Linked DNA regions of Homo sapiens. The protein of the gene in region 2 interacts with the protein of the main gene of each other region in a biochemical or structural test. Each region holds a gene or a part of one and is shown on either strand. Other genes may lie near its edges.

Region 1 (8,418 bases), on a different chromosome or scaffold from region 2:
AGCCCTGCCTATGTCTCCTCAGTATGAAACTGCACAGCGCCTTGCTGAGGTCTGACGAAGGACGGCTTCAAAACCACAAGAAGCAGGCTCATGGCTGTCTCCCCACCCAGCCAGGGTCGTGTGTAGAAAAGCAGGAGAGTTCCATGCACACGCTTCCGGTGGAGGGGTCACCGCCGCCAGAGATACCCCTCTATTCCTCTACCCCAGGAGGGAAGGACTCTGTCATCCAGTTGGCACCCCCGGGACCACCCAGGTGAGGACGCAGAGCGCAGTGGACCGGCTGTCCAGGCGTCTCCCCGCTCATCGTGCGGCAGATCAGGAGCACATCCAGTGTGAGAGCACACGAGACGCGAGCCCTCTGTCCCTCCTCGCTGCCCGTGCAGATTGCTGCAGGAGGTGACGCTGCCGTAATGAGCAACGGCCTCCCAGACCTCTCTAACACATAGCCTGCCCCAGCAGCCCTGATGCCACACAGCCGGCACACAGACGGCCCTGAGTGCACCCAAGGACACCTACCCACGCTGGTGATCCTCTGGGAGCTGAGGTCGTGCAGCAGGGCCTCGATGGCCGGGTTGTGTCTGGAGTACAGCTCGTACCGGTTGATACCAATGTGGAACTTGAGCCAGTTGGGATAGGAGTCCACGGCCGCCTCCCCGGGGGAGAGGAATTCTGCACCTTCAGCACCCGCATGCGGCCTGCAGGGAGCAGCGAGGACGAACATCAGCATGGAAAGAACAGGCCCGTGAGTCGGATGACGGGGAGAGGGCACCGACGCCAGTGTTTTTAACTTTGGGTTCAAGCAAGTGCAGATGTGTTGAAGGCGCCTCTGCTTAAAGAGGGCCCTGCAACGTCTGCGCTTTCTTCTGTGGCCGCTCGGCTGCCAACTAATAACACGGTGAAAGGCCTGTAATTCTTACTCACCCTCTGGAGACACCACAGACAGCTCTAACTACAGCAAAACTAATTCCAGGACGTCAGCGCTGCCCTGCCATCCCCGCCACGTCTGTCCCAGGGTCACCGAAATGGCCCAACCATGACCTCAGCTGAGGGTGCGAGGGGCTGTGGCCCTCCCCTGGAGTAGAGGGGAGAACCTACCATTGACCACAGGCTGCATGAAACTCACAGACACGCCCAGTCTGTCAGGAACCTTCCCCAGCTCTCTGCTTTTGTTCCAACAACCAGGGGCACAATGATGCAAGAGGCTAAATTTGATTTTAATGAGAGCAGCCTTGGGTGGGGAGAGAGGAAGGAGGCAGCACTCTCTCCAGCCCAGGCTCCCATGGAGGACCCGCCGCCCACGCAGCCTGTCCTCACATCTCTGGGGTCAAGGGACCGTTCTGGAGGAGGGACAGACCCTCCGTCTGCCTGCTGGGCTGGAGGGAAACGCGGAACTTGTCCTAGCTCGAATTCACCTAAAGCTGAGGTGCTTTCTGCCGAAGCTCTGTCCTGCGGTGGACACGGGGGCGGGGTGGGGGGCTAGGATACACTTCCTGGCCACTCGCTGCTCTGGGCGGCCGTCTCTCCCTGCCGAGAGCCACAGCCCAGGCCAATGCTCTGGTTCTCAAATTTCCAAGCATTTCCTTGAACCTGACCAGCAGGCAAGGCTCAGAGGCTTCCAAACAGCCAGTGTGTTTAGACAGAAGACACTGGGCCTGGACATTTCAGGGAAGAAGGGACTTTCAACCAGATCTTTTGGAAGGCTGGTCTCCCCCTCTGCTGCTGGGGTAACCTTCGGCAGGTAGTTACTTATTCTGGCCTTGTCGTGGTTAATGTTCCACTGCTTCGGTGTAGCATCTGCTTGTTTTGATCTGTGTGGCGGAGGGAGGGGCCGGGGGGTGGGGAAAGGGCTTAGCCAGGACAGTTTAAAGAGAGGTTCCTGCCGTGGCTTCTCGCCCTTTATCGAGCCATCATCTCTTTGCAGCCAGCACACCCACCGCCCTTGCTGGCTGGGCCGCCTTGTTGCACCTCACGGCTGCCAGCAAGCCCCTCTGATAATTCTGCTCCAGCCACTGGGTTTAAAAGACTCAATAGGCACATCCAGACCTTCTCCAAGGTGCCCACCCAGAGCACCCTCGCCAAGTGTCTGAAAGCCCAGCGGCAGCCTGGCTCCTTCCCTCACCAACTCATTCATTCATTGCCTGACCCCATTTCCCAAGCTGGTGACCACGGCTGGTCAGGACTCGCTTCTAAAGGGCGCGGGGTCTGGCTTCCTCACCAGCAGCCACAGGGCACAGCTCCCGGACCAGCCGGCAGCCCCTCCCAAGGAGGAGGTTATTCTGGAGACAAAGGCAGCGCCCTGAGGTAGGCGGCTGCCTCCTCCCGCACCACACTCCCTGCCCGGCCTCTTCCATGGGGGGCGGCCCTCTGGGGCCCCTGAACCTCTCTACACCATGCCTTGGGCTCACGGCTCCCTTGGGGGTGGGCACCTGCCAGCCCCCACTCACCAGTCCGGGTTCTCCGCCGCTTTGGGGCTGAGCCTGGTGTCGCTGTTCACATTGAACAGGACGTCCTCCTCCGTGAGCGGCGGAACCGCCACCCGGTAAAGCGGGTGCTCGAACAGCCTGGCCAGGAGGGAGGCGTCTCCGCCGGGGCCGGGGGGCGACTCGGACCGACGCGGGCCGGGGTCTCGCAGCAGCGGCCGGTGCGCGGGGTCGTGGGGTCTTAGGGCGCCGGGATCCCGCCCCCGCAAGGCGCGCTCGGCCGGCTCGGCCGCGGGCGGCAGTTTCTCCAGCGAGTGGGACGAGAGGTTGGAGGAGGGGTCGGAGCTGAAGTCCTGCAGGATGCGGAGCGTGTGCTTGTTGGGCCAGCCCGCGTCGCCGGCGGCGGAGGAGGCGGCCGGGGGCTCCCCGGGGCGGCCCCGAACCTGGGCCCAGCCGGGCGCGGCCACCTCGGCGGCGGGCTGCGCGCACGAACAGCCGGGCTCCCCCGAGGGCCGCGCGCCGCGTCGCTCCAGCCTGGGCAGCAGGTCCAGGGCGATGTGCAGCGCGCAGGCCACCAGGAACACCATCAGGATGAGCACGCGGAACCGGCGCACCAGCATCATCTTCATGGCCGCGCGGGCCGGCCCGGGCCTGGAGCGCGTTCTGCCCGCGCGCCCCTCTAGCTGCAGCTGGGCACGAGCGCGGCGCCGCCTCGCGGGTCAAGGTCCATCGGTGCCGGGCGGCTACCAGCTCCGGGGCTGTCCCCGGGCCCGGGCCGCGTGCAGGGCGCCCGCCGCCGGAGCGCTGGGTCCCCGCGCCATCTCGGGCCCGTCCCCGCTCGGCCTCTCCGGAGCGGCCGCGCCCTCAGCCGGGGAGCCCAGGGGTCCTGGTCCGCGGAGCCGGGCGCGCGGGGGGCGGCTGGGGCCGCAGCAGGGGGAGGCTCGGCGCTCGCAGCCGCCGGCGCGGGGCTCATCGGGCGTGTGGGTCCATCCCGGCCGGGGCGCGACGGGCCTGGGCGGTGGCGGCGGCCGCAGGCGTCCCGATCCTCAGCGCGCTCCTCTCCAGGCGCCGGGCGGGCGGGCGGGGAAGGGGCGGCTCCTCCGGGCCGGGCTCTGCTCTCACGCCGCGCCCGGGAGACCGGGGCTGGGGGGAAGGGGGGGGCGAAGGGCGGAAGGGGTGGGCGCGGGGAGCGGCCGGCGGGGTCCCGGGCAGGTGCAGCGGCCGCCCCGAGCGCAGCTCCCGCCTGGCCGAGCCTCTCGGCGCCCCGCGTCCCGGGCGGGCAGATATCGAGCGCCGCGGAGCCGCCCCCCGCGTCAGCGCCCACAGATTGGCGGAGCCGCCGCCCCACGAGTCACGGCTGGGCCCGGGCCGGCTGCGCTCCCGCTCTCCTTCCTCCTCCCCTCGGCCGCGCCCCGCGACGCCTCTGAGCTCCGGGCCCGCTAAGGAGAGGGCTCCTCCTGCCCGCGGTTTGCAGAGGGAAGCGGCGGAGACCGGGAGGGCGCGCTCGGTTCTGGCCAGGCCAGCAGCTGCGGCCGAGTGGGGGGCTCCGGCCTGGCCGCTTCCTGGGACCCCCTCCCGCCCGGGGCCGCCGCCGCCAGCTGCAGCCTCTCGGCTCCTCCCCAGAGGAGCGCGGGGCCGGGGCCCAGGCCAAGTCCCTCCCCGGAGCCGCGGGGCGTCTGCGCCGCCGGATGAGCTCCCCGCCGGGCGGCGACCCCGTGCCCCACGCCCGTCTCGGCAAGGAGGAGGCGGAGGCGGCCCCGCGAGAGAGGCCCAAGGAGCGACTGGGCCTGGACCCAGGGGACGCCAGGGCAGCGGAGCTCCCGGCACCGGTCCCGTCCCCCCCCCCCCGCCCACCCGCGGGACGCGCCCGCCTTAACCCTCCAGGCGCCGGGCCCGCTGGGGGCGCTGAGAGGGGCTGGTGTGCCGGGGGCGCCTTCCTGCTTGGGGCCGACGGGGGTGTGTGAGTGCAGGCGTGTGCGTGTGTGTGCGCATGTGTGTGTGTGGATGTGCGTGTGCGTGTGTATGCCTGTGTGTGTTTGTGTGTGCGTCTGTGTGCATGTGTGTGTGCACATGCATGTGTGTTCACGTGAGTGCATCTCATCTGTCACCCACAACCAGGGGAGCGGTGCTTGTACAACCAGCTGGTGGCTTCTGCAACCAGCAGCTTCTGGCCGTGCAGCTCCCTGTAGGGAATATGAGTTAATCTGGATGTCAGCCTAAGATGTAGTCAGGGAGGTAAGTGTGTGGGAGGAGGCCACATCCCCTGTGCCTCAAGCCGGCTGCTTCCACAGTGCCCAGACTGCCTGGGCCAGCAGCCTCGCCAGCAAGCCCAGGCGGGTGGGCCGGGAGCAGGGCCTGGGCCCCCCCTCTTACTTTCACCGGCTGGCTGTGTTACCAGGGCCCTCTCCGCCCTCTCTGAGCCTCAGTTTCCTCTGATGTGAATTAAGGGCGTTGAGCCCATTGTTCCTGAGGAATCACTCATCTCTGAGCCTGGCCCATTGCCTGGCATTCCGTGGGCACCCACTAGATACTTATAAGGGGAGAAGTTGTTCCAGTCCGGCTGGCCAGTGGAATCCATGCGTCTTGGGCCATTTGAAGTGAGTGAAGGGCTGGGTGCGGCCCACCTGGAGCTGGACTGGAGGCTGTGTTGGGTGGGGCGGTGTGACCTGGAGGTGGGCTGCCCCCTCAGGAGACAGCTTCACCCCTGTGAGTGGACCTCATCCTTCCTTCCTTCCACTCACATGGACAGCACATCTGTGTGTAGACAGGGTCACTGAGAGAGGCCAAGGAGGGTGAGGAGGAAGATCCCGGGTGTGGGGGGAGTCCTGGGGGAGCAGACAGCAGGGACAGAAGCCTGTGGCAGGAAGGAAGGTCTTGGCCTGTGTTCTCCCAGCAAGGGTCCCCTTGGACTTGGAGTTCTATAGGCTCCTGGCCCCCCCATCTCTCCCGTGGTCTACAGGACCTCGACGCAGAGCTGTGGCTAGTGTCTTGGGGCAGACATGGGGCTGAGCAGACCCCATGGAACACTATTATCCGGTGTGGGGGGCCTCATGGAGGTTCCCTGGGCACTTACTTTCACTTGCCTCCTGCCCCCAACTCCTCTCCCCTCCCATCCTCACCCCCAGAGTGGTTTTTGGGAGCCCGGCAGCTATCTGGACCCGTGTGCACCCCTGGACGCCTCCCTCCCTCGCAGAGGGTCCTGGTTCATCTCGTCTGTTGCCTCTTAGAACAGTGGCCTCTACCTCGCCAGGTCCTTCAGAAGCGCCCCCCTCCCTGCCCCGCCACTGTTTTCCCAACAGCACCCGCCGTGGTCTGAGGACACTTTCTTCTGCTCCTGTTTATTGTTTATCTCCCCCAAGCACAAGCAGTCGAGTTAAGACAGGAGCCTCGTTCAAAGTTCCGCCCGGGGCCAGGCACAGCGCAGGCTCTCAGAGGAGGGCCCAGGAGTCCACAGGCTGCGGCGGCGCGAGACAAAAGTCGGAAGACAGGACCCCGCTGAGGAGTGAGGAGACAGCGGCCAACCCTCCGCCAGACCCTTCCGCCTGGTGCCTTTACTGGGCTCTGAGGAGGAATTTGGTGGTTCAGTCGGCCCATCCGTGGACACCATAAAAACAAAGAGAAAACAGACACACACAGATGCACACATAGATACACACAGATACACACAGACACGGATATATAGACACACACAGATACACACACGTGGACACAGACACACACATAGACACAGATATATAGACACACACAGATACACACACGTGGACACAAACACACACAGACATACCCATAGTTACGGATATATGCATGGATACACAATACACAGACACACAGATGATACATGCATAGACAGATATATGGACACACACACACGGACACACAGATACACACATAGACACATAGACAGACACAGATACAGACACAGGCACATGTAGACACACATGGACATACAATACTCAGATGAACACAGAGATAATATACACATAGACACAGATCTATAGATACACAAAGACATACACACAGATATACATAGATGCACACATAGACACAGATACACATGTCATCACACATGGACACACACAGACACACACCAATACACACATAGACATACGAAGACACAGGTACACAGACACGTATACACACAGACACGCATATATACATACAGACGCAGATATACACACAGACACAGACATACACACACACACAGACACAGATATACACAGATACATGGACAGATACACATTCACATACACACATAGATACACAGAAACACACAGACACACAGACACATAGAGACACACACACAGCCACACAGGCCCTGAGCCTCCCTGGGCCCTCCCTTGTGCAGAGGCGGAGGGGCTGGCTGTCGGGGAGGGCACCTGGAGAGGACACACAGCCCCATCAGAGACCAGGGAGTGGCTCTGGGAGCTCTTTTCGTCCAAAGGGGCTGGAGCTCCAGTTAGCCAAGGTGAGCGCCAGGTGGTGACAGGAATGACATAGGAAAATAAGACGGCCCGGGCAGGGAGGGCTGCCTGCTCTGGGTGTGAGGGGATTGCTGTCTTAGACCACGTGGCCCAGGAAGGCCTCCAGGCATGGCTTTGCACAGAAGCTGGTACCTGAGGGCTCAGCCCCGTGGAGGCCTGCGGGGTGGAAATGCCAAGGCTGGGGCAGGGGCATGTCTGACCCTCTGCGGGGAGAGAAGGCCTGTGAGGTGGGCATTGTGTGAGGGGCCAAGTGGCCTCTGTAAGGTCTGCAGGTGGGGCCAGGCTGTGGGCTGCGTCCTGAGTGAGGGGGCCGTGGGAAGGCTGGGGACAGAGGGACGACGCTGGGTCTTGGGTCGGGAGAGGCTCACCTAGGGGCCGGGTGGATGGGTCTAAGGAGGGCTAAGGGCGGGGCAGGGAGAGCAGCTGTGTGGTGAGGACGAAGGGAGGTCGGCCAGAGCCCCCGGGGAAGGGCTGTTGTCATGTGGATGAGCTGGGAATTAGGAAAGCTTGTGGATTGCGAGGCCTCAGTATGCAAAGCCCTGGGACAGACGGGCCCCCCAGGAATGAGGGGGGCAGACGGGCTCCCCAGGAATGAGGGGGGCAGACGGGCTCCCCAGGAATGAGGGGGACAGATGGGATCCCCAGGAATGAGGGGGGACAGATGGGTCCCCCAGGAATGGGGGGGGCAGACAGGCTCCCCAGGAATGAGGGGGGCAGACGGGCTCCCCAGGAATGAGGGGGGCAGACGGGCTTCCCAGGAATGAGGGGGACAGATGGGCTCCCCAGGATAAGGGGGGACAGAAGACCCCAGGCCTGAGGACCAGGCCTGCCCCCTGGCACCACCAGACACCAGGAGGGCACTGCTGCTCTTAATTGAAAGTCTTGGTGCAGGTGAGGGCGTGGAGGATTCCTGGGGGAAGCTTCGTGCTGCAAGGTGGAAAAGACAGATAACAAGAGAAAAACAGAAGCTTAATAGCATGTATACCTTGGTCTGCAAGGGACGGACTCGGGACAGGCTATGTCGCAAAGGCGTGGCTTGGAGCTCAGCCTTAAAGACCATGTTCGACGGAAACAAAGAGAAAGAGTGTGTGGGGAGGGGCCCAAGAAATTACCCCAAACTGGGGTCAGGCCTTCTCCATGGATGAGCGTCTCCGGTGACTTACAGGCGGCCTTCTGGCCCAGAGAGGGGGCACCCTGGTGAGCGCAGATGCCTGTACGGATGTGACTTTCTCTCATAGAACAGCAGCTTCCACTCTTGTTTTCAGAATTTCTCCTGTGGTTGCAGTTTCTCAAAATAAGCAGCTCAAAATAATGCTTATGCCAAAGAGGCATATTTTGGGGTGGCATATTCTGGTCTGCTCTACGTGGAAGCGGACAGAAAAATGGGGCAGAGGCCAGGGAGGGGAGCGGGACCGACTTCCAGTTCCCAGACCCGAGCAAGGGAACCTGAGGCCGAGCTCTGGAGCTTGGGGTCTGGAAGGGGTTCTCTGAGGACACTCTGGGAGTGGGGGAACAGC
Region 2 (6,649 bases):
GTCCTTAAAATAGATTGGCTAGGAAGACCAATCTTGTGTTATAAAATGAAGTGTATACAGTACACTCAACGTATATCTTAAACATAATTAACAACAGATATAAAGTGAGGATCTTGTTTTAATTACCAATCCCTCCTTACCTCGGTACTGGAGAAAATCAATGGATAGTTTATTCTGTACAAAGTTCAGGAGCTTGGCCCACCTTTAGCAATATTTTCTCTCTCTTATAAAATGAGAAGAATTATTTTCTCATAAAGAAATGGTCATATCTTGGCCAGGTGCGGTGGCTCACGCCTGTAATCCCAGCACTTTGGGAGGCCGAGGTGGGTGGATCATGAGTTGAGGAGATCAAGACCATCCTGGCCAACATGGTGAAACCCTGTCTCCACTAAAATAAAAAAAATTAGCTGGGTGTGGTGGCACGCACCTGTAGTCCCAGCTACTCAGGGGGCTGAGGCAGGGGAATCATTTGAATTTGGGAGGTGGAGCTTGCAGTGAGCCAAGATCATGCCACTGCGCTCCAGCCTGGGTGACAGAGTAAGACTCCGTCTCAGAAAAAAAAAAAAAAAGAAATGGTCACATCTTATGGGTTGTGGAAAGATCCTAGTCTCACTTTTTCCTGTATCTGGCAATACAGCAGGTTTTTGTTCTCTTTTGGTTCTCTTTTCACTTTGATTTTGATTAGGGACACTGTGTTTGTTGGGGTAAAAGGCTATGCATGTGAGGGGAGCTGGGATGAAGTCGCAATAAGCATGACCACATTCAGCTTAGAACCTTCTTTATTAAGGAAGGTCTTTCAGGCACTTTCATTAACAGGCACATATAAGCTTAGCAAGAGCACCTTTCAAAGTCACAGTTCCAATGGTTTTTGTAAGGTCAACCAGAGGCAGAGAACACAATCATGGTGGCTTACCGTCAAAATCATGACAAGTTGTCAACCTAATGCCTTCTGTCAAACATAACCACCACCCACTCTGCTTCTGTCCTGTGAGGAATGACGGGAAGTAGGGAGTCAAGACTTGATATTAATGTAGATCGCATGTGACACTTGCGTGGCCAGCAGACAAGGCCCCCCACCCATGCCCAGGCTTGGACAAAATGGTGGCTATGTTTTCTGTGCCAAACCTCCTCATCTCTGCCATGTCTAGCCTAGACCTTGAAGTGTCTGATCCTCCCCGGACATGGAGGAACCACTGGCCCAGCAGCAGCACCAACACTAGGCTGCACCACTGTGCGTGTTTTCCGGGGGTGCGACACTTCTCCTGAGGGTGACCCCAATGAGACCACACCCATGAAGGTGTGGCGCAGGTCGTAGTGCGCCCGGTGCAACTGGTGTCCTGGAGGAGCTGCCAGTAACACATGGGAGTCTGGGGGTGAGCCAGCTGGAGGGAGTCCAGGTGCGCCAAGTGGAGGGGACGGAGGTGCATCTGGGTCCACCACGGGTGTGGGGACTGCTTCATTGGCACCTTCTGGTTGGGGCTGTGAGCTCACGGGCTGGAAAAAGGACCATTTCCTTCAGTTAGTTTGCTTCCTCCTCCCAGGCAAGACAACCCACAGGCCCAGGTGGCACTGGCACCCAATTTCCTCACATTATACATTTTTATTTGCAAAGAGTCTAGCAAGAAAGGACCTACCCAAGTACAAGGGATTGTCATCAAGGTTACAAGGAGGGGTGACTGGCCTATGTTGGCCCCGGCCTCACTAGGATTGTCTTTGTGATGGTGGACTTACACGCATATGTCCAATGAGTAAAAGCACCCCACCTATGGCTCACCCTTGCCCAGCAGTGCCACCCTCTTTGTCATCTGAAGCTGCAGCCACTGGGAGCTAACAGGTAGATCTGGCCACCTGGTCTCTGCAACTCAGAAAACCACTCCCACCTCCCACAAATAAAAAGGTGGCTTTGTCAACTACACAGTAAGATGGTTCTTCCCTGTAGTCACTAGTTCGTGGGAGGGAAAGGCATAGCTAAAATATCCTTCCATTTGTTGATGATTCCGCATACCCCAGTGTTATTTCATACTGTGAGATTCAGAAGCACAGGAGAGCAAATGTCCTGTCATCACTACTGCACTGCATAAATGTGAAGGGGTCATTGTATTCTGAAGGTGTAGGCAAGAATATTCACGGAGCTGTTACCTGTGTTTGGAACACCATGCAGGTCACTGCAACCTCTGCCCCACCAAGCTTCTCACTGAGTGTTGCCTTACAAAAGCCATATTGCTGCCCACAGAGAAAGAGGATTTATTTTAACTAATTTCAAAAATGGATCCCCCCCAATTTCATTGACGCGCCAACCTTAAATTAGTTTGAAAAACCATTTTTCTTAAAGTTATAGTTTCTGCTTGTGGGAGGTATATGATTCTATATATAACATGGAAATACAGAAATACTTTGAGAGTGAGAGAGATTACCCATAATCCCTTTCTGGTGGTGGCCTAGAAAGAAGGACTGTTAACATTGATGCATTTCTTTCTTATTTTAAAATACTATTAAATATGATTTAAAAATTGAGATCATTGTGACTATACGATGTTGTATCCTGTGTGTTTTCACTTGCCATAATAGCATTTTCTCATATCATTCATTATTCCTTGAAAACACAATTTTTAGTGTCTGCACAATTTTCTATTTACTGATGTGCATGGATTATTCAATGACACCTTCCTGTTGGACATACAGATCTCTCTTTTTTGGTCTCTTTATATCCATAATAAATCATTTTTATAGATATATTCTGTCAAATGTCACTGATGAATTCTTTTTCTTTTTCTTTTTTTCTTGAGACAGAGTCTCGTTCTGTTGCCCAGGCTGGAGTGCAGTGGCACGATCTTAGTTTACTGCAACATCTGCCTCCTGGGTTCACACCATTCTCCTGCCTCAGCCTCCCGAGTAGCTGGGACTACAGGCGCTCACCACCAAGCCTGGCTAATTTTTTTGTATTTTTAGTAGAGACGGGGTTTCACCATGTTAGCCAGGATGGTCTCGATCTCCTGACCTCCCGATCCACCCGTCTTGGCCTCCCAAAGTGCTGGAATTACAGGCATGAGCCATCATGCCTGGCCACTGATGACTTCTTTAGACTAAAATCCTAGAAGTGTACATTATTGGCTCAAGGACTTGAAAGCTTTTGTATCAGAGTTATATGTCTAGAAAATGTGCACTTCACATTCCCAGTGGGTGGGCGTGACTTGGCTTCATTAGCAAATAGCCTCTCTCTTTCTCCTAACTTCATGTGCTTCCAGTGGGTGAGATGATTTGATGACAGCTCTTAAAGGGATGAGGTGACACCCTAAAAGAAGGCTTGCCGTGATCCACAGGGAGAGGGGATTTGCACTGTTATTCTCTGTCTGCAGCCCCAAGATACAAACTATCCAAGGATGTTCTGTTCCACAAACAGCTCTGTCCGAGTGGTAACACCCCAAGGTCCCGGCCCACTCACCTTTTCTGCCAGCAGGTTACACTTGGCTGCCTCTGTGGCCTCTTTAGCAACACAGTCAGTGCCAGACACTGTAAACTCCACATAGGTAGAAGGTGGGAGGGGCTGAGAAGAGTACATGAAAATGCTCTTGAGGAAAGATGACTTACAATGAAAAGGGCAGAGAAGGAGAGCGGGAAGTAGCCTCCTTCGGGGAGCACCATTCATGCAGACCATGCGTCGGCCCAGAAGACATGTCCCTCAATGGCTTACATAGGGCAGTTGCTATGGGGTTGTGTTCTCAAGTGCTTGTGCTTTAGAGGTAGGGGTTGTGTCTTCCTTGTAGGAGGGGCAAGTATCCATCACCGGTCCTTCAGGGTGGAGGTGAGTTTGCAGATAGGAAACCGGAATCAGAAGGCCAGCATTAGACTGATAGGAGTGGGAACCCTGCCTCCCCCCAGCCCTCACTCTTGGGCTGCACTTGATACCCAAGGTTCAGGTTATTCCAAAATAGGGTGGGAAAGTGAAGAGATTAATACCTCTTCCACCTGTTTCATAGAGCAGGCTCAAATGAAAAGATTTAGATGAAAGTATGGAAGATATCACTTGAGCTTTTCTTTTTTAAAGTAGTTGGAGCATATGGACACAATAAAATATCTGTTATTTGGTGTAGTCTGGGGTGGGGATGTTCTGAGAATCACATATTCTGATTAATAGAATTGCCGTCTATACTAGCGTATTTCCAAGTATGGCCATGGCTGATATCCAGAATACATTTTCTTAAACATTTGAATTCTGTTGAATTCCAATGTGCTAAACCACCCACAGTACAATGAGATGTTTTCTCCAGTGACTCGAAAGGCATTTTAAGATCTTGCCATTATAAGCTTGTCAGCACAAGTGAGTATTAATTACGAGTCTGTGGCAGATGTTCAGCGGAGATGGGTGGTACTGGAGCCCAGCAAATTTACAGTGAGTGCTTCTGGCCGACGTGGGCAACTCTACCAGCTGACACTGAGCTTTGGTTTTAGCTGGAACGGAGGGAGTGGGGATGTACCTGCCGGCAGCTGTGGCTGCTGGACGTTACAGTGGCTCAGCATGGGGGAGGCGCTGAGGGTGTTGGGGTCCTCATGACACTCAGGAGCCTCATACCCCCTTAGGATGCTTTCTTCCCTTTCCAAACAACCCTCTCCTTGCTTTCTCATCGCTGCCCCTGCGCCTGTTCTTCCCTGCCTCCCGCTCCACCACGTACAGTACATTCCCGAAGTGCCACCGAACTGCCCAACCTGTCAAAAGAATCTCAGTCTTTACCACAAGCTGAGCCCGGGAAATTTCCTCCAGCTGAAAATTGGAGCCGTTGTTCTGAGCGTTGAAGGCGGCCAGGGCAGCTTTCGCGGCGTGCACCACCCTGGTGTCGTTCAGCGGGGCCAGCAGGGGGCAGTCTTGGCACACCTTGCGCACGTCCTCGGCTGAGTCTGCTCGGAGAGAGGAAACCAGGATGTGGGCAGCCATTCTCCCTGGCATGGCCCCAGCTCTGCTGCGTTAGCAAGGGCTAAGGCATTCCCCAGATAGCTTCAGGCACTTTCTCTGCTTCTTACTAAACCTTCAAAAGGCTTTTGCTATGCTGACATTTCTGCAGGAGCTCTTATCATCACGAGGCAATTTTCACTTCCAGTAAGAATAACTTCTTATTTTTTTGAGACAGGGTCTCACTCTGTGTCACTCAGGCTGGAGTGCAGTGGTGCGATCTCGGCCCACTGCCACCTCTGCCTCCCAGGTTCAAGCGATTCTCCTGCCTCAGCCTCCCTAGTAGCTGGGATTACAGGCGAGCACCACCACATTTTTGTATTTTTAGTAGAGATGGGGGTTTCACTATGTTGGCCAGGCTGGTCTCGAACTTCTGACTTCAGGTGATCCACCTGCCTCGGGTGGGTGGATTACAGGCGTGAGCCACCGCACCAGGCCAAGAGTAGCTTCTTAAAACACAATTTTAAAAATCCCAGAACCCAGGAAATTTGGCTTCTCCTTTTCCTCACCGACAAAGCTGCTAGAACTACTTAAGTTGAAAATTATTCAGATCCCTTCCCCACTTTCTCTACAAGGAAAAAATGAGAATAAGAATAGTCATCTGTACCTGGACTGGAATCACATTTTGCGTATACCACGGAAAACTTGCCATCTAGTTTCAACAGCTGGAAATCACAGTCTCCTTCGACAGCCTGGAGAAAGAAACCCACGTGAGGATGGCTGCCCTTCCCCTTCGCACCCCGGGCAGGCTCCCTCCAGGCACGGCTGTCAAAGGTGACCCTTGCAAAATCGCCTTTGCTGGGTAATACTGAAACATGGCACTCTCTGCTTTCAGGGATACAACGATATAGTTAAACGCTTGTAAAAATCAGCCCCAGGGCAAGTGGCATCAAATGGCAATTTTATTTATGATGATGATTATTATTATTATTATTTCGAGATAGAGATTCACTGTTGTTGCCCAGGCTGGAGTGCAATGGCAGGATCTTGGCTCACTGCAACCTCCACCTCCCGGGTTCAAGCGATTCTCCTGCCTCAGCCTCCCGAGGAGCTGGGATTTACAGGTGCCCGTCACCACGTCCAGCTAATTTTTGTATTTTTAGTAGAGATGGGGTTTCACCATACTGGCCAGGCTGGTCTTGAACTCCTGACCTCAGGCGATCCACTTGCCTCAGCCTCCCAAAGTGCTGAGATTATAGGCATGAGCCACTGCGCTCGGCCACAAATGGCAATTTTAGAAACTGCACCCTGGCTAGCCAAGAAGGCAGGCTGAGACGCTGGGTGAATCGGTGGAGCTGGCCGAAGGGCCACCTACAGTCATCCTAAGAAGGGTACTCACATGCTCCTTCAGCTGCCTCACGCTGCATCTTGCCACAGGGGTGGGGTCCAGCACATGGCAGGTGGTTTCCAGGGTGTCTATTTCAATCTCAAACAGCTCTCCGGAGGGCTGCTGTGGAGACAAAGAGTGAAGCCGTGAGCAACCTATTCCCCTGATCCTGTGGTGCGGTCCACGGTATGCGCCCTCATTGGGCTTGAGAGCACCCCGCTTTTGGAGAGGTGAGGGAAATGTCATTCTTACTGTCAGTCTGCAACTCCGTCTAGCTCTGAACTGGCCTGTGGGCAGGACAATGACCAGGGCTTGTCTGGTCTTCGTCTGTTGATTAAGGAAGCACCAGATGATGCTCGCAAAGCAGACGGGGTCCT
Region 3 (7,890 bases), on a different chromosome or scaffold from region 2:
GGTAGCTACCAGCTTATCCGAACAGGAACCTTCCAGCAGACCTGGTACCTGAACCAGACCATCCATAAAACCTAGTCTCTCACACACTCCACGTGGCCTCACAACATCCAAAAGTGTTAGCAGCGAACATGGCTTCATTCCCAGAAATGGATGCCTTTAAGACCAAACAAAGAGGCCACTTGTGCCTGACTCCCTCCCCTTCCCGGCCCCACAACAGGCAGACCAACTCATGTCCCCACTCCCCGCCAACCCCGGGGAATAGTCAATAACTTATGAGGCTAATACCAGAGACTTTAAAAATTAAATATGGTACAAATATATTCTCAAAACTCTGTCATCTCAGTTCTTTTTTTTTTTCCTTTTTCCATTTTGTTTTTTCTTTCTTTTTCTTTTTTTTTTTTTAATGTCCTAGCTTGGTTTGGTCTTGAAAAGATTCATAATCACTCCAAATGAAATGCTCCTCCCTTGGCCACCAATGTGAAGGGAGGGTAGAAACCTGAGGCTAGACTTCTGACACAAGAAGAATCTGTCGAGAGCACAGTCTCCCAGTCAATAAGAAGGAAGGAGAGAGGGGGATGAGCTCGCACCCTTGAGAAGAACCTTCATGAGCCAATTCCCAAAGCATCAACTCCGCATGGATACTTTGCACACACATCAGCCGTGTCTAATGGACACACACACGTGCATACACACGTGAGCACACGCCGGGACCACAGACCCTTATCCAAAATATGAAAGCAGCAGCTATTGGTCAATTTGAGGAACTCATTTTGTAAAGAAAAAAAAAATCCTTCAGCCTGGATGAGAGAAAAAAAAAAAACCAAAAAAACCATCTTGAAGCTCAACCTGTAAAACTTGAAATTCTCCTGGAACAGGGCTGGGTGTTTTTGTTTTGTTTTTTCTTTCGAACTTTTGTTCCACAAACAGGAAGTTTTGTCTTTTATACTGAAGCTCAGACACCAGCAAAAAAAAAAAAAAAAAAAAAGAATTTGTAAAAACAGGTGCTTTCTTTCCATCTGCTGGGGGCGGGTGGGGGGAACGAAAAAACACAAAATCCTGGTTTGAAACCGTCGTTGCCCCAAAGGAGCAGCAACTGTGGAAACCCCTTGCCCTCCAGGTTCACAGTTAAATCCTCTGCAGGACTAGTTAAATTGGTAACCAAACGAGTCCACCTTAAGATGAACAGAAATGTATAGGAACGATCTCTGAACTCCATTGGACATGGTAGAGTCGTGAGAATCCTGAGTTTTCCAGAGGCTTTCAAACCAGAGGAAAGCGAAAATGGGAACCCCTGCCCGCCCCCGCCACGGTAGGCACTGTTAGGAAGGATTGGACCGAGGCAAGGTCAGAATCCGCCCGTTTTTCTTGCCTCCGTTCATGTGTGTGTAAGGGATGTGTTCCTCGTAGCTCCGCTTGAAACCCAGCGAGGACCCTCCATCCCGGCCCCCCGCCTCCTCCCTCTGACAGTGCGAGGAACGGTCCAGGGGCACATTCTCCATGTCCTCAAACTCCATCTCCAGCTCCTCACTCTCGGGAGCCTTGTTCTCCTCGCTGTGGAAGAACGACACCTCTGGAAAGCTGGGGTGCAGGTCGTCCTTGAGCAGGTTGACAATCTCCAGGAAGGTTGGCCTCATCTTGGGGTTGAATTGCCAGCACATGCGCATGAGGTCAGTGCTGCGGGGCAGAAGGACACGTCCTGGGTGAGTCTGGGGGCCCTGCCACGCATCCTCCCAAACCCCCACTCTTGTCCCTGCAGCCGACACCCACGGACCACATGTGCTCACATCAGATGCTGGCTGTGTGTGTGGACAATTGTCAAGGCAGAAATAGCATTGCTAGAGGTGCTGAGAGATGGTGTTTTCTTTTTGCTTTTCTTCTTCTTATTTTGGACACAGCGTCTCATTCTGTCACCCAGGCTGGAGTGCAGTGGCATGATCATAGCTCACTGCAGCCTCTGCCTCCTAGGCTCGAGCAATCCTCTCACCTTGGCCTCCCAAGTAGCTGGGACCACAGGTGTGCACCACCATGCCTAGCTAATTTTTGTATTTTTTGCAGAGACAGGGTTTTGCTATGTTGCCCAGGCTGGCCTCAAACTCCTAGGCTCAAATGATCCACCCACCTTGGCCTCCCAAGGTGCTGGGATTACAGGTGTTAGCCACCATGCCTGGCCGCTTTTTTTTTTTTTTGAGACAGGGTTTCTCACTTTGTCACCCAGGATGGAGTGCAGTGGCGCAATCATAGCTCATTGCAGCCTTGAACTCCTGGGCTCAAGCCATCCTCCTGCCTCAACCTCCCAAAGTGCTGAGGTTCCAGGCATGAGCCATCCTGTCCAGCCTGAAAGATGGTTTTGAAAAGGGATTCCTCATTTCAAAACTGGCTCAAGAGTAATCCCAGCACTTTGGGAGGTTGAGCCAGGAGGCTGAGTCCAGGAGTTCAAGGTTGCAGTGAGCTGTGATTGTGCCACTGCGCTCTACCAGCCTGGGTGACACAGCGAGACTTCATCTAAATATATATATATGTACATATGCATATATATTTGGAGGGGGGAATATATAATATGTATGCCTGACAAAATTTTTGTGTGTCTGTGTTTGTTTTTGAGACAGAATCTCACTCTGTCACCCATGCTGCAGTGCAATGGTGCAGTCTCTGCTCACTGCAACCTCTGCCTCCCCGATTCAAGCAATTCTCCTGCCTCAGCCTCCTGAGTAGCTGGGATTACAGGCGCCCACGACCGCGCCTGGGTAATTTTTATATTTTTAATAGAGGCGGGGTTTCACCATGTTGGCCAGGCTGGTCTTGAACTCCTGACCTTAGGTGATCGTTCACCTCGGTCTCCCAAATTGCTTGGGATTACAGGCGTGAGCCACCCATGCCCAGCTACCTGACAAAATTTTAAGTGTATAAAGAATTAACAGGCGGCTGTAATCCCAGCACTTTGGGAAGCCAAGGTGGGTGGATCACGAGGTCAGGAGATCGAGACCACGGTGAAACCCCATTTCTACTAAAAATACAAAAAAAAAAAAAAATTAGCCAGGCGCGGTGGTGGGTGCCTGTAGTCCTAGCTACTCGGGAGGCTGAGGCAAGAGAATGGTGTGAACCCGGGAGGCGGAGCTTGAAGTCAGCCGAGCTCGCACCACTGCACTCCAGCCTGGGTGACAGAGCAAGATTCCGTCTCAAAAAAAAAAAAAAAAAAAAAAAAATTAACAGGCAAACAGGTCTCTCTCCCCCAACCCCAGGTCTCCAGTTCCCTTCTCCCAAGATAACTACCGCTATAGGTGTTTTGTGCAACCTTCCAAAGATACAATATGCAAGAAAATCATATGATTTGTGAACACAAGCAGGCAGGTAAAGACATAATATGTAAACATGTGTGCTTATAATATGTAAATGAGGTGTACATGTGCCATGATATGCTGATGCACACAGAAACATATAATATGCAAACATAAATACCTATGTAAATATATAATATGCAAACGTAAGCGTACATGTAGCACATATGGGAACTCAAGTGTGTGTACCACAATGCAATATGCAAATGCAAGCATGCATGTAAAGACAAGCTATGCAAACACAAACACACCTGTAACATACAGCATGCAAACACGGTGAGCGTGTAGACATAGGAAAGGCAAAACCAAGCACACGTGTAAAGGGCAATACCCTTTCAACGAACACCTCACACACCTTAAACCCTTTCTACACTTACACTCTCTCTGGACAGTTGTCGGGTTGATCCAGATACCCTCCATCCATGACAAATTTCAACACCTGTTCATTAGACAGGCCTTGGTAAGGCTGTTCTGCCAAGCTGGTGATTTCCCAAAGGACCACGCCAAAGGACCTGCCGATGACAGTTGATAGTAGTAACAAAGAAGCCATTTAGACACACACACACACGCGCGCGCGCAAACACACACACGCAAACGCACACACACACGCAAACACACATGCCAACACATACATGCAAACACACACATGCAAACACACACGCACATACACGTGCACACACATGCAAATACACACAAACACGCATGCGCACACATGCACACACAAATATGCAAACACACAAACACATATACACACACAAACACACACACCCAAACACACACACGCACACACATGCAAACACACACAAACACACATATGCACACACATACACACACAAACACACACACAAACACATCTCTTGGTTTCTAGAACATGGTTAGCCACTTAATAAAACAATTCATGCTGCAGTTCATAAATGCTGTGAAAGGAAAATCAATTTGGGGCTCCCAAATCACTAAACTCAAGGAAAAAGTCCAGCTAGGAACTGCTTGGACAAACCTGCTTCCCATTCTATTCAGAGTCCCCACTCTGCTCACTGAGATACCTGCATATCTGATTGGCTCCTTTGGAGAGGCGCATCAGAAACTCAAAAGAATGCAACCATTTGTCTCTTATCTACCTACAACCTGGAAGCTCCCTCCCCACTTCGAGTTGTCTCGTCTTTCCAGACCGAACCAATGTTCATCTTATATATGTTGACTGATGTCTCATGTCTCCCTAAAATGTATAAAACCAAACTGTGCTCTGACCACCTTGGGCACCTGTCCTCAGGACCACCTGAGGCTGTGCCACGGGCACACGTCCTCAACCTTGGCAAAATAAACTTCCTAAATTAACTGAGACCTGTCTCAGATTTTCGGGGTTCACAATGCCTACAGGATTAGTCAGGACATAAGAGTAGCCGTGGGAAGATCCTAAGACAGGACGCTGCCTTCCTTTCCTTGATGGGGCGTCCAGGAGGATGGCAGGCTTCCTTCCCCCGCTCTTGGCTCTCACTAGCACCTGGAATTCAAGCCCAGCGTCCATCCACCCATCCACACACAACTCACCACATGTCAGAAGAAGTGGTGAAGACCCCATCCTTCAGGGACTCCGGTGCCATCCACCGTACAGGGAGCAGACCCTTGCCCCCTTTCCGGTAGTAATCCGTTTCATAGATGTCTCTGGTCATTCCAAAGTCTGACAACACAAAAGGTTCACACGCTCTTAACCTTCAGCCTTGGTCCTAGCATCTGCCACCTTGACTGCCCCACCTCTCACAGAGCCCTAAGAGGGGTTCACCTGGCCCACGTCTGCGCTCACCTGGGTGGTGGCCAAATCCAGTAAGAATGGATTCTGAGGGTACGCATGGGGAAGTGAAGGGGGAAGATGGGCTACTGTTTAAAGGGAGGGAAAAGAAGGTACCAAATCACAAAGAAGCTACATTTTTCTTTTTTTTTTTCTTTGATATGGAGCCTCACTCTGTCCTCCAGGCTGGAGTGCAGTGGTGCAATCTTGGCTCACTGCAACCTCTACCTCCCTGATTCAAGCAATTCTCTTGCCTCAGCCTCCTGAGTAGCTAGGATTACAGCTGTCTGCCACCATGTCTAGCTAATGTTTTGTATTTTGAGTAGAGACAGGGTTTCACCGTGTTGACCAGGCTGGTCTCGAACTCCTGATCTCAGGTAATCTACCCACCTCAGCCTCCCAAAGTGCTGGGATTACAGGGGTGAGCCACCGCACCTGGCCAGGAGATGTCTTTTTGAGTCATAAATAGAATCATATCACTTCCTGCTGCCCCTTGCTAATGTAAGATAATGTCGAGATGACTTGCTGTGACACGCAAGGTCCTTCTGGGTCTGGTTTCTGCCTCTCTCCTCATCCTCACATCTCACGCTGCTCTGGTCCCCTCTATATTCCTTTTTTATTTGTTTTTTGAAATAGCGTCTCACTGTCACCCAGGCTGGAGTGCAGTGATGCTGTCACAGCTCACTGCAGCCTCCACCTCCTGGGCTCAAGCAATCCTCCCACCCCAGCCTCCTGAGTAGCTGGGACCACAGGTGTGCACCACCACACCCCACTTTTTAAAAAATCTTTTCAAGGAGATGGAGTCTCACTATGTTGCCCAGGCTGGTCTCAAACTCCTGGACTCAAGCAGTCTTTACACATTGGACTTCCAAAGCACTGAGATTACAGGCGGGACCCCCGGTCCTACAAACATATCTTTTAAAGAAGTGAATGGGTAAGTGAGTTTATCAATACATGCAATTAAATGACAGCTGGTGGGGGGTCCCCATCCAAAATCTTGCCCAGCCAGGCACAGTGGCTCATGCCTGTAATCCCAGTGCTTTGGGAGGCCAACACAGGTGGATCATATGAGGTCAGGAGTTTGAGACCATCTTGGCCAACACAGTGAAACTCCGTCTCTACTAAAAATACAAAAAGTAGCTGGGTGTGGTGGCGCACGCCTGTAATCCTAGCTACTCAGGAGGCTGAGGCAGGAGAATCGCTTGAACCCAAGAGGTGGAGGTTCAGTGAGCCGAGATCCTGTCACTGCACTCCAGCCTGGGCGACAGAGCAAGACTCCATGTCAGAAAAAAGAAAAAAAAAAAAAGCCGGTGCAGTGGCTCACGCCTGTAATCCCAGCACTTTGGGAGGCCGAGGCAGGAGGATCACGAGGTCAGGAGATCAAGACTATCCTGGCCAACATGGATGAAACCCCATCTCCACTAAAAATACAAAAATTAGCCAGGCATGGTGGCGCACACCTGTAGTCCCAGCTACTTGGAAGGCTGAGGCAGGTGAATCACTTGAACCTGGGAGGTGGAGGTTGCAGTGAGCTGAGATCACACCACTGCACTCCAGCCTGGGCAACAGACAGAGTAAGACTCCGTCTCAAAAACAAAAAGACAAAACAAAACAAAAAAAACCCCACAAAAAAAAAAGAAGTATCTTGCCCCTTTATATTATCAGAAAAGACTTAACGGCTCATTATAGACAACTTCCTTCTGAAATCAAACCTGGCCTGGGTCGTTATGTTTTCAAAGCAGAAAGCCAGACGAACCTCCAATTTTGACAGTAAAATCATGGGCGACCATGCAGTTTCTCGCTGCCAGGTCCCGATGCACAAACTTCTTGGCGTTCAGGTAGGCCATCCCGTCAGCAATCTCTGCCGCCATCTGAATCATCTCTTGAAGGGTAGGGGGAGGGCGGCCAGGATTATTCTAAAACAGAAACACGGGGTTGGTGTTTCAGCAGCACTGGGATCCGAGGAGGCCAGGAGCGGGTGCTCCACCGAGTACCCCGCTGGGTCCCCCGAAGCAGCTTACCTCAGCCTCTGGCCGCAGAGAACGGAGGTAGCTCTTCAGGTCTCCGTGAGCCATCAGCTCCATCACCACCAGCGTGGGCTGGCCCTTGGACACCACTCCCAGGAGGCGCACCTGCAGAGCAAGCAACCAGGGTTCTTGGAGGAGGGTCCGTGATTCGACTCACCAGGGTTCTCCTCCCTCCCTGGTGTCTATGTCACACACAGCACCCTGTGGCCTGGATGCAGCGTGCTCAGCCCTGGTCTAGGAGAGCAGACATACCTGCCCGGACAGCAGACAGATAGGCCTTTGTATTTTTTTTTTTTTAATTTTCGAGACGGAATCTTGCTGTTACCCAGGCTAGAGTGCAGTGGCGTGATCTCGGCTCACTGCAACCTTTGCCTCCCGGGTTCAAGCAATTCTCCTGCCTCAGTCTCCCGAGTAGCTGGGGTTACAGGTGCCCGCCTCCACACCCGGCTAATTTTTGTATTTTTAGTAGAGACAGGATTTCTCCATGTTGGTCAGGCTGGTCTTGAACTCCTGACCTCTGGTGATCCGCCTGCCTCAGCCTCCCAAAGTGCTGGGATTATAGCCACTGCACCCAGCCAGGCCTTTGTATTTTAATCATTCCCTCTGCCTGGCTCTCTGTTCCCTGCCACATCCACAGGGCCCAGCTCCTCATGTCCTCTAAGTCTTTGCTCAAATACACCCCTGTCCAACCCTCCTTTCCTCCCTTTCTTCATGTTTCCATAGCATTTGCTCCTAATGTATA

The links. Proteins that work in one complex are often made in the same cells at the same time.
Region 1: of the proteins of AHSG (region 2) and FAM20C, one has a biochemical effect on the other in vitro, tested with the Homo sapiens proteins (one study listed by IntAct).
Region 3: the proteins of AHSG (region 2) and INSR form a complex in vitro, tested with the Homo sapiens proteins (one study listed by BioGRID).

The regions. Positions count from the first base shown.
Region 1 is NC_000007.14:187,831-196,248, reverse strand, and holds the start of FAM20C (extracellular serine/threonine protein kinase FAM20C precursor), read right to left. Parts: upstream 3,679-8,418; 5' UTR 3,050-3,678; coding exon 2,445-3,049; intron 696-2,444; coding exon 517-695; intron 1-516. UniProt on the Homo sapiens protein: Golgi serine/threonine protein kinase that phosphorylates secretory pathway proteins within Ser-x-Glu/pSer motifs and plays a key role in biomineralization of bones and teeth.
Region 2 is NC_000003.12:186,615,431-186,622,079, reverse strand, and holds the end of AHSG (alpha-2-HS-glycoprotein isoform 2 preproprotein), read right to left. Parts: intron 6,396-6,649; coding exon 6,285-6,395; intron 5,638-6,284; coding exon 5,553-5,637; intron 4,897-5,552; coding exon of another isoform or gene 4,894-4,896; coding exon 4,730-4,893; intron 3,545-4,729; coding exon 3,443-3,544; intron 2,224-3,442; coding exon 2,140-2,223; intron 1,495-2,139; coding exon 1,150-1,494; 3' UTR 762-1,149; downstream 1-761. UniProt on the Homo sapiens protein: Promotes endocytosis, possesses opsonic properties and influences the mineral phase of bone. Shows affinity for calcium and barium ions.
Region 3 is NC_000019.10:7,115,737-7,123,626, forward strand, and holds part of INSR (insulin receptor isoform Long preproprotein), read right to left. Parts: intron 7,254-7,890; coding exon 7,143-7,253; intron 7,038-7,142; coding exon 6,878-7,037; intron 5,014-6,877; coding exon 4,884-5,013; intron 3,848-4,883; coding exon 3,713-3,847; intron 1,675-3,712; coding exon 1,320-1,674; 3' UTR 1-1,319. UniProt on the Homo sapiens protein: Receptor tyrosine kinase which mediates the pleiotropic actions of insulin.